3 separate regions of the Homo sapiens genome follow, and regions 2 and 3 are each reported to be linked to region 1. Evidence: microRNA targets listed by miRTarBase, many of them from high-throughput screens and not tested one by one. Region 1 holds a microRNA gene; each other region holds the end of a gene's coding sequence.

Region 1 (4,155 bases):
GGAGATATTACTTCTATGTCACAGAAGGTGTACCCTGTCTGTGGACACCTTCTGTGACATCATTCATAATATCATAGGGAGATAGTACTCTTAATGTCAAAGGGGGTGTACATCATGTGTGGAGATCATGTGACATTATTTGTAATATTTTAGGGAGATATGATTCCTAATATCACAGAAAATGTACAGCATGTGTAGACATCCTGTGACATCTTCCTAAGAGTAGTATCTTCCTAGAATATTAAGAACACAGTGGGTGTACACACAGCGTGTGCACTCACTGTGAGGTTATTCATAATATCCTATGAAGATAATACTCCTAATATCACAGAGGGTGTAGACAGTGAGTGTACAAGGTATACACAAGATGTGCACTCACTGTTATATGAGGAGTAATATCTCCTTAGAATATTACATATAATATCGGAGTGGGTATACACACAGGGCGATATCCTATTACAGTGCCTGTACACCCTTTGATATGATTCATAATATCCTAGGGAGATATTACACTTAATATCACAACACTTTGATATTAGGTGTAATATCTCCCTAGGATATTACAAATAATATCACAGGGTGTACACCCACTGTAATATTAGGAGTAATATCTCCCTAGAATATTACAAATAATATCACAGGGTGTACACTGACTGTGATATTAAAAAATATTATCACTAAAATATTATGAATATTATCACAGGGTGCACACCAACTATGATATTAGGAGTAATATCTCCTTAGAATATTAAAAATAATATCACAGGGTGTACACCCACAGTGATATTAGGAGTAATATATCCCTAGAATATTATGAATAGTATCACAGAGTGTACACCTACTGTGATATTAGGATTAATATATCCCTGGAATATTATGAATAATATCACAGATTGTACTCACAAGGTGTACACCCACTGTGATATTAGGAATAATATCTGCCAAGAATATTATAAATAACATCTGCCAAGTATATTATAAATAACATCATACAGAGTGCACCCACTGTGATATTACACGTAATATCTCCCTAGAATATTATGAATAACATCAATGGATGTACACACAAGGTGTACACCCACTGTGATATTAAGAGTAATACCTCCATAGGATATTACTAATTATATAACATTGTATATACCCACTGTGATATTAAGAGTAATAGCTCTCTAGGTTATTATGAATAATATCACAGTAGGTGTACACAATGTTGTACCCTACTGTGATATTAGAAGTAATATCTTTCTAGGATATTATGAATATCACAAGGTGCACACTCACTGTGATATTAGGAGTAATATCTCCCTAGAATATTACAAATAATATCACAGGGTGTACAAACATGGTGTACCCCTACTGTGATACTAGGAGTAATATTTCCCTAGGATATTACAAATAATATCACAGGGTGTACTTACATTGTGTACCTTCCCTGTGATACTAGGATTAATATCTCCCTGGGATATTATAAATAATTTCACTGAATGTACACAGATTCTGTATTCTCACTGTGATACTAGGAGTAGTATCTCTCTAGGATATTATGAATAATATCACAGGGTGAACACACATGGTGTACCCCTACTGTGATATTCACAATATCTCCCTAGGATATTGTGAATAATATCACAGGGTGTACACACATGGTGTACCCCCCACTGTCATACTAAGAGTGATATCTTCCAAGGATACTAGAAATAATGTCAAAAAGTGTACATATATGGTGTACACCCACTGTGATAGTAGGAGTAATACCTCCCTAGGATATTATAAATAATATCACAAGGTATATGCACATGGTGTACATTCACAGTGTTAATAGGAGTAATATTTTTCCAGGATATTACAAATAATATCATAGGGTCTACACACATGGTGTATACCCACTGTGATAGTAGGAGTAATATCTTCCTAGGATATTACAGATAATATCACAGGGTATACATGCATGGTGTACACCCATTGTGATACTAGGAGAAATATCTCCCTATGATATAATGAATAGTATAACAGGGTGTAGTCATATGATGTAAACCCACTGTGATATTAGGAGTAATATCTCCGTAGGATATGAGGGTATTGGGAGTAATATCTTCTCTTCCCCTGGATATTATGAACAGGGGAGTGTACAACCCTTGCAATGTAACAGGGGTTTGTACATTCCCTGCAATACTGGGTGTAATAGCATCTTATCTCCTTCTGGATATTATGAACAATATAACATTGGGGTGTACACCCACTGCAATATTGGGAGTAATATCATCCCCTCTTTCCCTAAATATTATGAAAAGTATCAGAGAGGGTGTACACTTCTTGCAATATTGCGAGTAATATCATCCCCGCCCCCCGGATAATACGAACAATATGATAGAGGAATGTACACCCTCTGCAGTATTGGGACTAATATTATTCCCTTTCTCCCTGCATATTACGTACAATATCACTGCGGGGTGCACACACCCTGTGATATTGGATGTAATATCATCCCCTCTCCTTCTAATATTACAAACCTTATTATAGGGAGTGTATTCCCACTGTGATATTGAGGGTAATATCATCTCCTCCCCTCCTGGATATTATGAAAAATGTAACAGAGGGTGTACACCTTCTGCGATATTGGAGGTAATATCATCCCTTTGTCTAATAAGAAGAAGTAATATCATCTTCTTCCCCCACTGAATATTATTAACAACATCACAGGGGGTTTACACACCCTGTGATATTGGGAGTAATATCATCCTCTCGCCCCCTAGATATTACCAACAATATCACAAGCAGACGTACACCTCCTATGAACAATATCACAGGAAGGAGTACACCCCCTACGATATTGAGAGTGATATCATCCCCTTTTTTTTCTAGATATTTTGAAGAATATCACAGGGGAGTATACACCCCCTGCGATATTGGAAGTAATATCATTCCCTACCCTTCCGGATATTACAAACAATATCACAGGGGGTGTACACCCCTTGTGATATTGGGAGTAATATCATCCCCTACCACCCTGGATATTACAAACAATATCACAGAGGGTATACACCTTCTGTGATATTGGGAGTAATATCATCATCTTCCTTCCCTGGATATTACAAACAACATCACAGGGGGGTTTACAACCCCTGAGATATTGGGAGTAATATCGTCCTCTTCCCGCCTAGATATTATGAAAAATATCACAGAAGGGTGTACACACCCTGCGATATTGGGAGTTGTACAACCCCAAAGATATGGGGAGTGTTATAACCCTCTCCTCCCCTGAGTGTTATGAACCATATCACAGAGGGGTGTACACGCCCCTGCGATATGGGGAGTGATATCATCCTCTCCCCCTCTGGATGTTACGAACCATATCACAGGCGAGTGTACACTCCCCAGCGATATGGGGTGTATTATCATCCACTCCCCACCGGATCTTACAAACCATTTCACAGCAGAGTGTACACACCCCGTGATATCAGGAGTAGTATCACCCTCTCCCCTCCTAAATATTACAAACCCTATCCCAGGGGGGTGTACACTCAAGGTGTTTACGATATTGGAAGTAATATATTCTCCCCTCTGGATATTAGAAACAACATCACCCGGGAGGGTGGGTGTACAGCCACTGCGATATTGGGCATAACTTCATCCTCCCTCTTCCTCTGGATATAGGAATTATACTACAGGCGGGGTGTACACCCCCTGCGATGTTGAAACTCATGTCATCCTCTCTTCCCCTGCATATTAGGAACAATATCACAAGGGGGTGTGGACATTTTCTGTGATATTGAAAGTAATATCATCTGCTTAGCTTCTGGATATTAGGAACAATATTACAGAAATGGTGAACACCCCCTTCGATATTGGGAATAATATTATCTTCTGCTCCCTAAATATTAAGAACAATACCACAAGCGGGCTGTACACCCTTTGCTATATTTGGACTAACATCAAACTCTCCTTTTCTGGATATTAGGAAGAATATCACTGGGCGGGGTGTACTCTCCCAGTGATATTGATAGTAATAGAGTTCTATCCCCCACTGGACATTAAAAGCAATATCACAGGCGGGTTGTACAGCCCCTGGGATATTGGGAGTAATATAATCGTTTTTCCACCTGGGTATTAGAAACAATATCACCAGGGGGGTGTACAGTTCCTGCAATATTGGGA
Region 2 (4,000 bases), not on the chromosome of region 1:
ACCAGAATTACCAGAAATATATCTAACCTATTTATTATATTCACTTCTAGTTGGAGTTTGAGCAAGTAAATATGCATTGTAATACAAACATTTCCTTTTAAAACTCTTCAACAGGACTCTGACTTGAAGAAAACAGTGGATGAAAGTGCACGGATTCAGAGAGCATACAACCACTATTTTGATTTGATCATCATAAATGATAATCTAGACAAAGCCTTTGAAAAACTGCAAACTGCCATAGAGAAACTGAGAATGGAACCACAGTGGGTCCCAATCAGCTGGGTTTACTGATGATTCAGTAAGGTTAACAATGAAAATTAAACTCTTAAAAAGTGACTGCAACAAATAAACCTTCTACTGAGAAAATACATCACAGATAGAAGATTATCTGCTAAGTCCAGGCATTTTTATGGTGTAGATTGAAATAATAGTACACTTCTGAATTTTTATATAAAATGTGGTTGGAAGGTGTACTAATATATAATTTATCTTAATTTTTCTAACTTTGTATGGATAATCTTTCTATTCATATCACATAAAGAAATGCGTTGAAGCATTTTGTATATGTTTTGATTTAGTACCCTTGCCTTTTTCATCAAAGGAATTTTCAAATCATTCACTCTAACATTGGTCTCATATTTTCACTGTGATAATGAATATTACTTGAAATAGTTTTGTAAAGCTGTCATTTAGTTCAGTATTCAAATAGTGAAGGGTTAGTCTTAATAGAAGAAAATATAGTTATTGACCTTCCTTCTTATAAATTTCTTACAAAAGCAGAATTTTAAGTCAGTGTTATAGCTAGTCTACTACCATCTAAATCTGACATCAAAAGTCTGATCAGTTTACGTATTTTCATTATTTCGGAGATGTATGGCTATCCATTCTAATTTATACAGCTATATTAGTTTTGTCTCTTCATTTCTATCTTTACTGAAAAATTGAAGAGCAATACCTTGCACTCTCTTTTGAGGTTATTCTTTTTATTTGTTGCAGTGATATGATGCTAACTAATTTAACATGTACACAGTAAGCTCTGGGGCTGGAAGCAAGGTCATGCAGACTGAGAGAGTGCCTTATCCTGTAAAACCTTACAGCAAAATGACACTTGAAGAAAGTTTATTTTCACATGTAAAATTTTGACTGACAAAAGGAACCTACTACTTTAAACAATGGTTTTATTAGAACATGGTCAGCAAATGTATCATGCCTCTGCAAATTTTAGTGATGTTTAGAGATGCCTCTAAGTTTGCAGTTGGAGGTTTTTGTGCTTTTAGAAATGTGATGTGATCCTTAGGGTACCTGTTTTGTCTGTTGTGTTGAGAACCAAACCCATTGAACAACTTAAAAAATTGGGAAATAATTGTCAGCTATTTTGTATACATACACACAAAATATATACATTATATAATATGTATATTATGTATTATATAATATATATAAAATGTTTTGTATATTTTTTACATATCTGTTAAAAAATGTACTTTGTTTTTTTGTTTGTTTGTTTTGAGATGGAGTCTCTCTCTGTCACCCATGCTGGAGTACAGTGGCGCGATCTCAGCCCGCTGCAACCTCTGCCTCCTGGGTTCATGCGACTCTCGTGCCTCAGCCTCCCAAGTAATTGAGATTACAGTTGGGTGCCACCATGTCCGGCTAATTTTTGTATTTTTAGTACAGATGGGGTTTCACCATGTTGGCCAGGGTGGTCTCGAGCTCCTGACCTCAAGTGATCCACCCACCTTGGCCTCCCAAAGTGCTGAGATTACAAGCATGAGCCACTGCACCTAGCCAAGAAGTGTACTTTTTGTTTAATGATTACCGAAAGAAGTTCTCCTTTAGAAGCATTGACTTATACAAATTCCCACATTCACCTCAGTTAATATCTTCCTTTAGGATTCTTGGATAATAGAAATTCTTCCTAAAACATACTCAGAGATGCAGCTCATTATTAAATTAAGGTAACCACATTCTGTATTGTTGCTAGCTTTTCATGTAAACATTATTCACACTTTAAAGGATTAGGTGTTTAAATATTGATGGTCATCTTTGTCTGGTGTTAGGTGCCAGACACCTGGCTGCTGAATTTGTTTTTTCCCTCACCAAAGTTGTCATTTGGAACGCCAGCTGGGAGGACTTTGAAGGAAAAGAAAATATATGACAATAGGCAGTATTGACACATTGTTTAAAATCTTTTTCACAATAAAACAAAACACCCAAGTTGTCATATTGTTAAAGTTGGAAATCTATAGGTTTTTCTTTTTTTTTTTTTTTTTCTTTTTTTGATTCTAGATTTCATGGCCAGAACACAAATTCACGTTTCTTGTCCTAGGACAGGGAATTGGTGACAAAATGGATTATACTATTTTAATAACAGTGGAAACTTTCAAACTACATGTGTTTACACCAAATTCTTGGCTTCTCAAAGCAACATGAATTAAAGCACAGTATCAAGGTGATGCCCTATGACAATGTTTCAACACACACTTGAAATTTTAAGAGAAATTTCAGTTCTTCACTCAGGAAATGTGCTGTATTCTCTAATGTACTTTCATGCTGCAGCATGGAGCCTCTTTAAACAGCTTTGGGATAATTATAGCAGCACAAGAAGTTTATCTGCAAAATATTTCAATCATCTTGGTACAATAGATGACTTTTACATCATGTATATTAGCCTTATGTGATATAAAATGTATTACTTAGAAAATATACTTAAAGGAATTATTTCTATTATAAATGGTATTCATGATTGACTACTTAATTAATGCACATTAGATTTCTCCTAATATAAAATGAAATGATGCAGTTTAGTTCATTTCAGTCTAGATGCCCGTACTAACAAGAATACAGTTAGATAAGTTCATTGTATCTCAATGAAGAATCATTGAACTTGAAACCCAAGTCCCAAATGAATCTGCAGGAATGAGCAGTGCTCTGCGGGGGCAAACAGCCCCAGAGGTCCCAGGGTTCTTCCTAGGTAATGAGAGTATAGCTGTGATCAAGGAAATGTGAACTTCTCTTTTGGGAAGATCTGCGATAATTAGCTTTATGGAAGCGAAAATGGTTTAGAGTGGTGTTGAGCAATTGTTAAGAGTTGAAATAGACACACACATGCATGTGCTTTTGGGAAACATGATGTGCCAACGTATTAATGTGCCTGAGGGCTCCTTGTGGATAGGTCAGTGTCCACATTTCAGCACTCAGGGCATGACTGTACACAACCTAAGACTATATATATATTTTTTCATTTTCAAATGTACAAATACCCATAGAGGTGATGTGCCTGGATAAGTCATTTAACCATAGCTTAGTGAAATAAATGTGATGGCCCTAAAAAGTAGAATTTTCACTTTCATTACAGCCATGCCTTTATTATGCAGTCTCCATTTCTGTGTGATATTTGGTAATATCACATGTCAAATACATCAGGACTTTGTTTATTTTGGCTAACTCTAACTATACAATTGCTGAACATAGCTTTCTGAAATAGAAATTATAAGAGAAACCCAGTATGCCTACAGCATTAGTAGCCTAAATCCTAGATTCTAGAATCCAATAAATTTATAGTAGTTCTTAAGAAGTTTCCTTTAAAGCAACAAATAGATTATTAAGGCAAATTTAGATAATAACCCAAGTTAGCAATAAAACCATGTGACATTATAGATTATGTCCAGATACTAACTGCTTTGACCATAATATCCCAATGACAATAAAAAATGATCCTTGGTTTAAAAATTATTAAATGGTACTTATTTTTATGTATAACAAGTGTCATGATCCCAGTGACTGGAGTTGATTTTCAAGGTGGATAGCCATAGAGTTAGGTAAAATTATTTTGAATTGGCAAACTAAAGATAACAATTTTGAAAATTGCTCAAAATAATAATCTACTTAAATTTTACTTTTGTAACTTCTGAAACAGTACTCCATTATCCAGAAATCACAGGCTAGAGAGCCAATAATTTTGTAGTAATGAACCTTAACTAAACATGAAAAAGGCAAT
Region 3 (4,000 bases), not on the chromosome of region 1:
TTCCAGACCTGTAGTGACTTGTCCACCTCAGCCTCCCAGAGTGTTAGGATTACAGGCATGAGCCACCGCACCTGGCCTCTCTTCCTAGCTTTTTTATATTACTAGACTTAATGCCAGAGTTCTTTGCCAGGTCACCTTCCAAACCACTGCCAATTACATTACTTCTGAATCTCATTTCTTTGCAGAAGTAAAAAATAAACTTGCAAGATGGTTGTATGGATTAAATGAGATAATATATGTAAAACATTTGGCACAAGTGTTAGTTCCTTTTCTCAACATAATTTTTTCTCTTTATAGGGAGTCTGAAGATACAGTATTGCTCGTCCTCAAAGAGATCTACCAAACCCAGGGTATCTTCCTTGATCAGCCTTTACAGTAAAAATGACCCATCTATGGCTGCTTAATGTAAGTTTTAAAATGTCATATATATAGTGTAATTCTTACATATTAACATGTTATAATGAACTATGGAGCCTCAAGCTCTTTTTAAATATACTAGCTGTTGCCTGTCACCAAGATCTAGGCTGCTATTCATTTTTAGAGGGACTGGTAGAAATTCATGGGGAAAAAAACACAGTAGCCCATTTAGAGGAAGATTAGTGTATGTCTGTTTTGCTAGAGATTTTGTCCAATGACACCTGTCATTTTTTAGGATCTAAACTCAGAGTTTTAATGGTTCTGTTATCTAAGAGTTACTGTGGCAACAGTTATGATTTTAATTACCAACCACCCATCCTGAGATTTAAATTACTCAGCCTTTTAGATGTGAAATTACAAAGTCTGTGTATTCGACTCTGGCATTCTCTGTGGTTGCCTTCCAGTTGTGACTGCAGCTCTTCTCCCACTTTCTTCCCTAGACGGACATTGAGGGATCCTTCCCCAGAAAATCCACCTGTTTGTTGCTGCAATTTTCCTCTCCTCAGCTGCGTCATTTCCTGCATGTTGCCTGCCACTTACTCACCACTGGGGTCTTTGGAAGATAATCTTCCTCTTTGGAAATGAATGGAAAAGCAAAAGGCCCTATTACTTTTAACCACTGGCTTCATATAAACACTTGCCATTTTTTTCTGCATAGCTGGGGGTGGTTTGTGTCTTTAATTCTTTGATGATAGTTTATAGTTGCCACACTTTATTGATTAGTACTTGACAGGGTGTAAAGCCTATTTTGGGTTTGATTTGTTTTGGGTGGGGTAGACATGTTTTTAAGGAACTTATTGCTTATCTTTAGAAAATGTTCTAGTTTGGAAACAGATTCTTGAGATTCAGAAGGCATTTTGGAGTACACTTATCTCTTGTTTGTGTTGAACTGAAGGCTAAGTCTCAGTGGACATGGAAAAGACTTTTGGGTGATTTATTTTTGAACCTGCATTTCTTTCTTATGTGTAGTGTATGAAGAAAGACTAGAATGTAGCTTTAAAAAAGTGTTGTTTACTCTCTTAGAACTGACAGACTTATTGCCAGAAATCACTGATGTTCATTGTTTTTGCAACTGTTTGAGCTGCTGTAAGAGTCTAAAGTTGACAAGTTAGTTCATGTTAGGTGCATCTTTATAAAGCAAAGATGTTGTATATCCTAGGCCTCCCTTTTATATTTGATAGAAGTTATTTGCTAATAGCTTCTATTCTTACGTTGAAAATAGTTGTAAAAGCTGATGAACCTGAAATTGTGTAGCCTCTACAGGCTGCTGAGGTTCTAAATAAAACCTTTTAGTGGTGCCTTTATGGTGAAACAGAATTTGTCACCTGCCATTTCTACTTGAGCTAAGGTAGTATTGTGTATCCTCTTTCCTTCTTAGGTATCCATAATCCACAAAGCATATTTAAAAGGCTCTTGGCACGGGCAGCATTGGTTGAGCAGGTAGGTTTGGCTAGGGGGAAATGTTTAACTTGTTCTGAAAGAAAAACTTATGTCTGTAGGGTCCAAGAAACAGCTATTCCAGAGTCAGTGTCAGCTGAGTCTGGAACATATGAAGTGAGGTTTACTTCTAAGAACACAAGTGACTGCACACTAATTTTGTCAAGGCATCTTTTCACTACTTTGCTGTAGATTTTTCTTCTTCATTGGTCAGTTTGTCATTGTCTTTGTAGTTCTCTTTATGATAATCCTTTATACTTGCTCTCAGATTCCACAGGCCTCTGTTTATAGAGTGGCAAAGGCAGGCGAGCTGTGGTTTATTGTTTATAAATTTTTTTATAAATGTTATGGTATTCAAAGCCACTGACATTTAATATTTACTGAAGCCATTCCTTAGACAGCAGTGGTCTTTATCCCTTTCTGGAAAGAAAAGGAAAATGAAGGGTAATTACTGTCACCATGGAGATTGTAGAGGTAAGGTTGGGGTATAGGTCAGGCCTGGCCTTTCTTTGTCATCTGCTTATAGTCTAGTGCTAAGTATGCCACTAAGTTTCAGATATATGGAATACTTTATTTTTTTAAAGGTATATAAACTCTGAGTTATTGAGAATTAAGTATTCACTGTATATTAAGGGGAAGCTTTTGCCAAGTTGTGGTCTTCAAATTTATGTTTACTCTTCCTATTGGCAGAATAGGTGCTATTTAAGAGTAAACCAAAGGATAAGCAGAGGGAGTCCCTATAACCAAAGATGGACAGCATAGCCCTGGATAGCCAGATAAACCACTCTTTGTATTAAGAAATGTTTCTTTCCTAGTGGTGAGGGGTGGGTAACTGTGAAAGAGCTTTATATCTTGTCTATTCATGGTATTATAGCTGTATATTCCCAGGATGATAAGCTTGATTGAAATCCTGTATTTAGTCATATATTATTTGCGCTGCTTCATTTGTATCATGTGCAATCTCTAGACCAACCCTATTTTTAAACTCTGGTACAGCATCATTTTGTACATATTCCCAGCTGCAGAACTAGTATCACTTATCTCAGCAAAAGAGATTGTTTGCATGGAAAGATTAATAGCACTGATTAGATTTCTAATATTTTGCATTTTTGAAATGTTTGTTTTCTACGTGATTATATTTAAAACTTTAGTAAATACTAACATGAAACCATATTGACTAGTGGCCTACTTTTACCTGGACTCACCCGTCTCAAAGTCAAGAAAATCAGTACAGTCACGATTTTCTCTGTCTTTATGTATTACTAAAACAAAAAAATAGGTTTTGGGCAAAGAACTAATATGTAAGTTCTTTCCTGTTGACTGGTATTTTAATTGTCATAGGCAGAATTTAAGTTCAGAATTTAAAGCATGGCAATTATAAGAGACTTTCCTTTGGTATTTATAAATATTAGCCAGTACTATAGATAACAGCAGTTGAATCACTTAGGGCGGATGGGGAATTCAATGTTTTGCTTTACTAAAGTTCCAGCCCCTTAATGTACTTTAAATATTTAAAAAAGCACACATTTACCATTTTATTTGAATATCAGGTTTACTGAAGGAAAAAGATACATTGAAAATATAGGAACATACACATAAAAGACAATGTCATATTTAAAGTATAATCACAATAAAGAGAAAGGGAGCTGTAGGTCCTATGGCATCCATTCTGATGACATCCCATAATTGTTCCTTATATTCCATTGTGAAGAAGGGGCAGAAAAAGATTCATCTGTCCTTCAGATGACGATACCTGTCATTTTTCTTTTCTACCTTAGTCACTTGGCAGTGTTGGTGCATTTGAGCAGATCTTCAGTCATGAATGGAAGGAAAGAAGCTCACAAGTACAGTTATGGTCAAATGAGGTAGAAACAGTCATCTGTTAGTAGTGCTGAAACCACACTCCTGACCATTTTCTTCTTTATTATTGTTTTCACTTAGTAATTCAACAAATTGTTTATGCCCACGGTGTTCAAAATGCACAGCAGTACCAGATGGCTGGACTCAGATAAGATGCACACAAAAGTGATAAATTACCCTAGATTCGACATTTTCCTATTTAAGGCTTGATGGAATTGTCATCAGAGAAGGTAAACAGAATCAAAGTAATTTAGTTGGCCATGCCCTAGATTTTAAGATTTTGAGC

The links. Region 1 holds the annotated microRNA hsa-miR-5692c (AAUAAUAUCACAGUAGGUGUAC, at 1,183-1,204, shown strand). A microRNA usually pairs through its seed, bases 2 to 8, with sites in the 3' UTR of a target mRNA and lowers its output. Matches are read on the target gene's strand: a 7mer-m8 pairs with bases 2 to 8, a 7mer-A1 pairs with bases 2 to 7 and ends in A, and an 8mer does both.
Region 2: miRTarBase lists PALS2 as a target of hsa-miR-5692c. Seed matches in the 3' UTR shown: 7mer-m8 at 1,417-1,423, 7mer-A1 at 1,425-1,431 and 7mer-A1 at 2,726-2,732.
Region 3: the mRNA of DDHD2 is a reported target of hsa-miR-5692c. Seed matches in the 3' UTR shown: 7mer-A1 at 2,721-2,727 and 7mer-m8 at 2,779-2,785.

The regions. Positions count from the first base shown.
Region 1 is chr5:135,800,045-135,804,199 of GRCh38, reverse strand. MIR5692C1 (microRNA 5692c-1) reads left to right here and starts at 1,125; the gene lies at 1,125-1,215. It also overlaps a transcript of SLC25A48 not described here.
Region 2 is chr7:24,687,324-24,691,323 of GRCh38, forward strand. It overlaps PALS2 (protein associated with LIN7 2, MAGUK p55 family member), which reads left to right. Exons shown (of 12, transcript NM_001303037.2): 12 at 115-4,000. The coding sequence ends at 291. Among named protein-coding and RNA genes, the nearest start is that of GSDME, 68 kb to the right of the region's middle.
Region 3 is chr8:38,259,743-38,263,742 of GRCh38, forward strand. DDHD2 (DDHD domain containing 2) reads left to right here. Exons shown (of 18, transcript NM_015214.3): 17 at 298-405; 18 at 858-3,094. The coding sequence ends at 379. It overlaps PLPP5 (phospholipid phosphatase 5), which reads right to left. Exons shown (of 7, transcript NM_001102559.2): 7 at 3,388-4,000. Among named protein-coding and RNA genes, the nearest start is that of PLPP5, 7.5 kb to the right of the region's middle.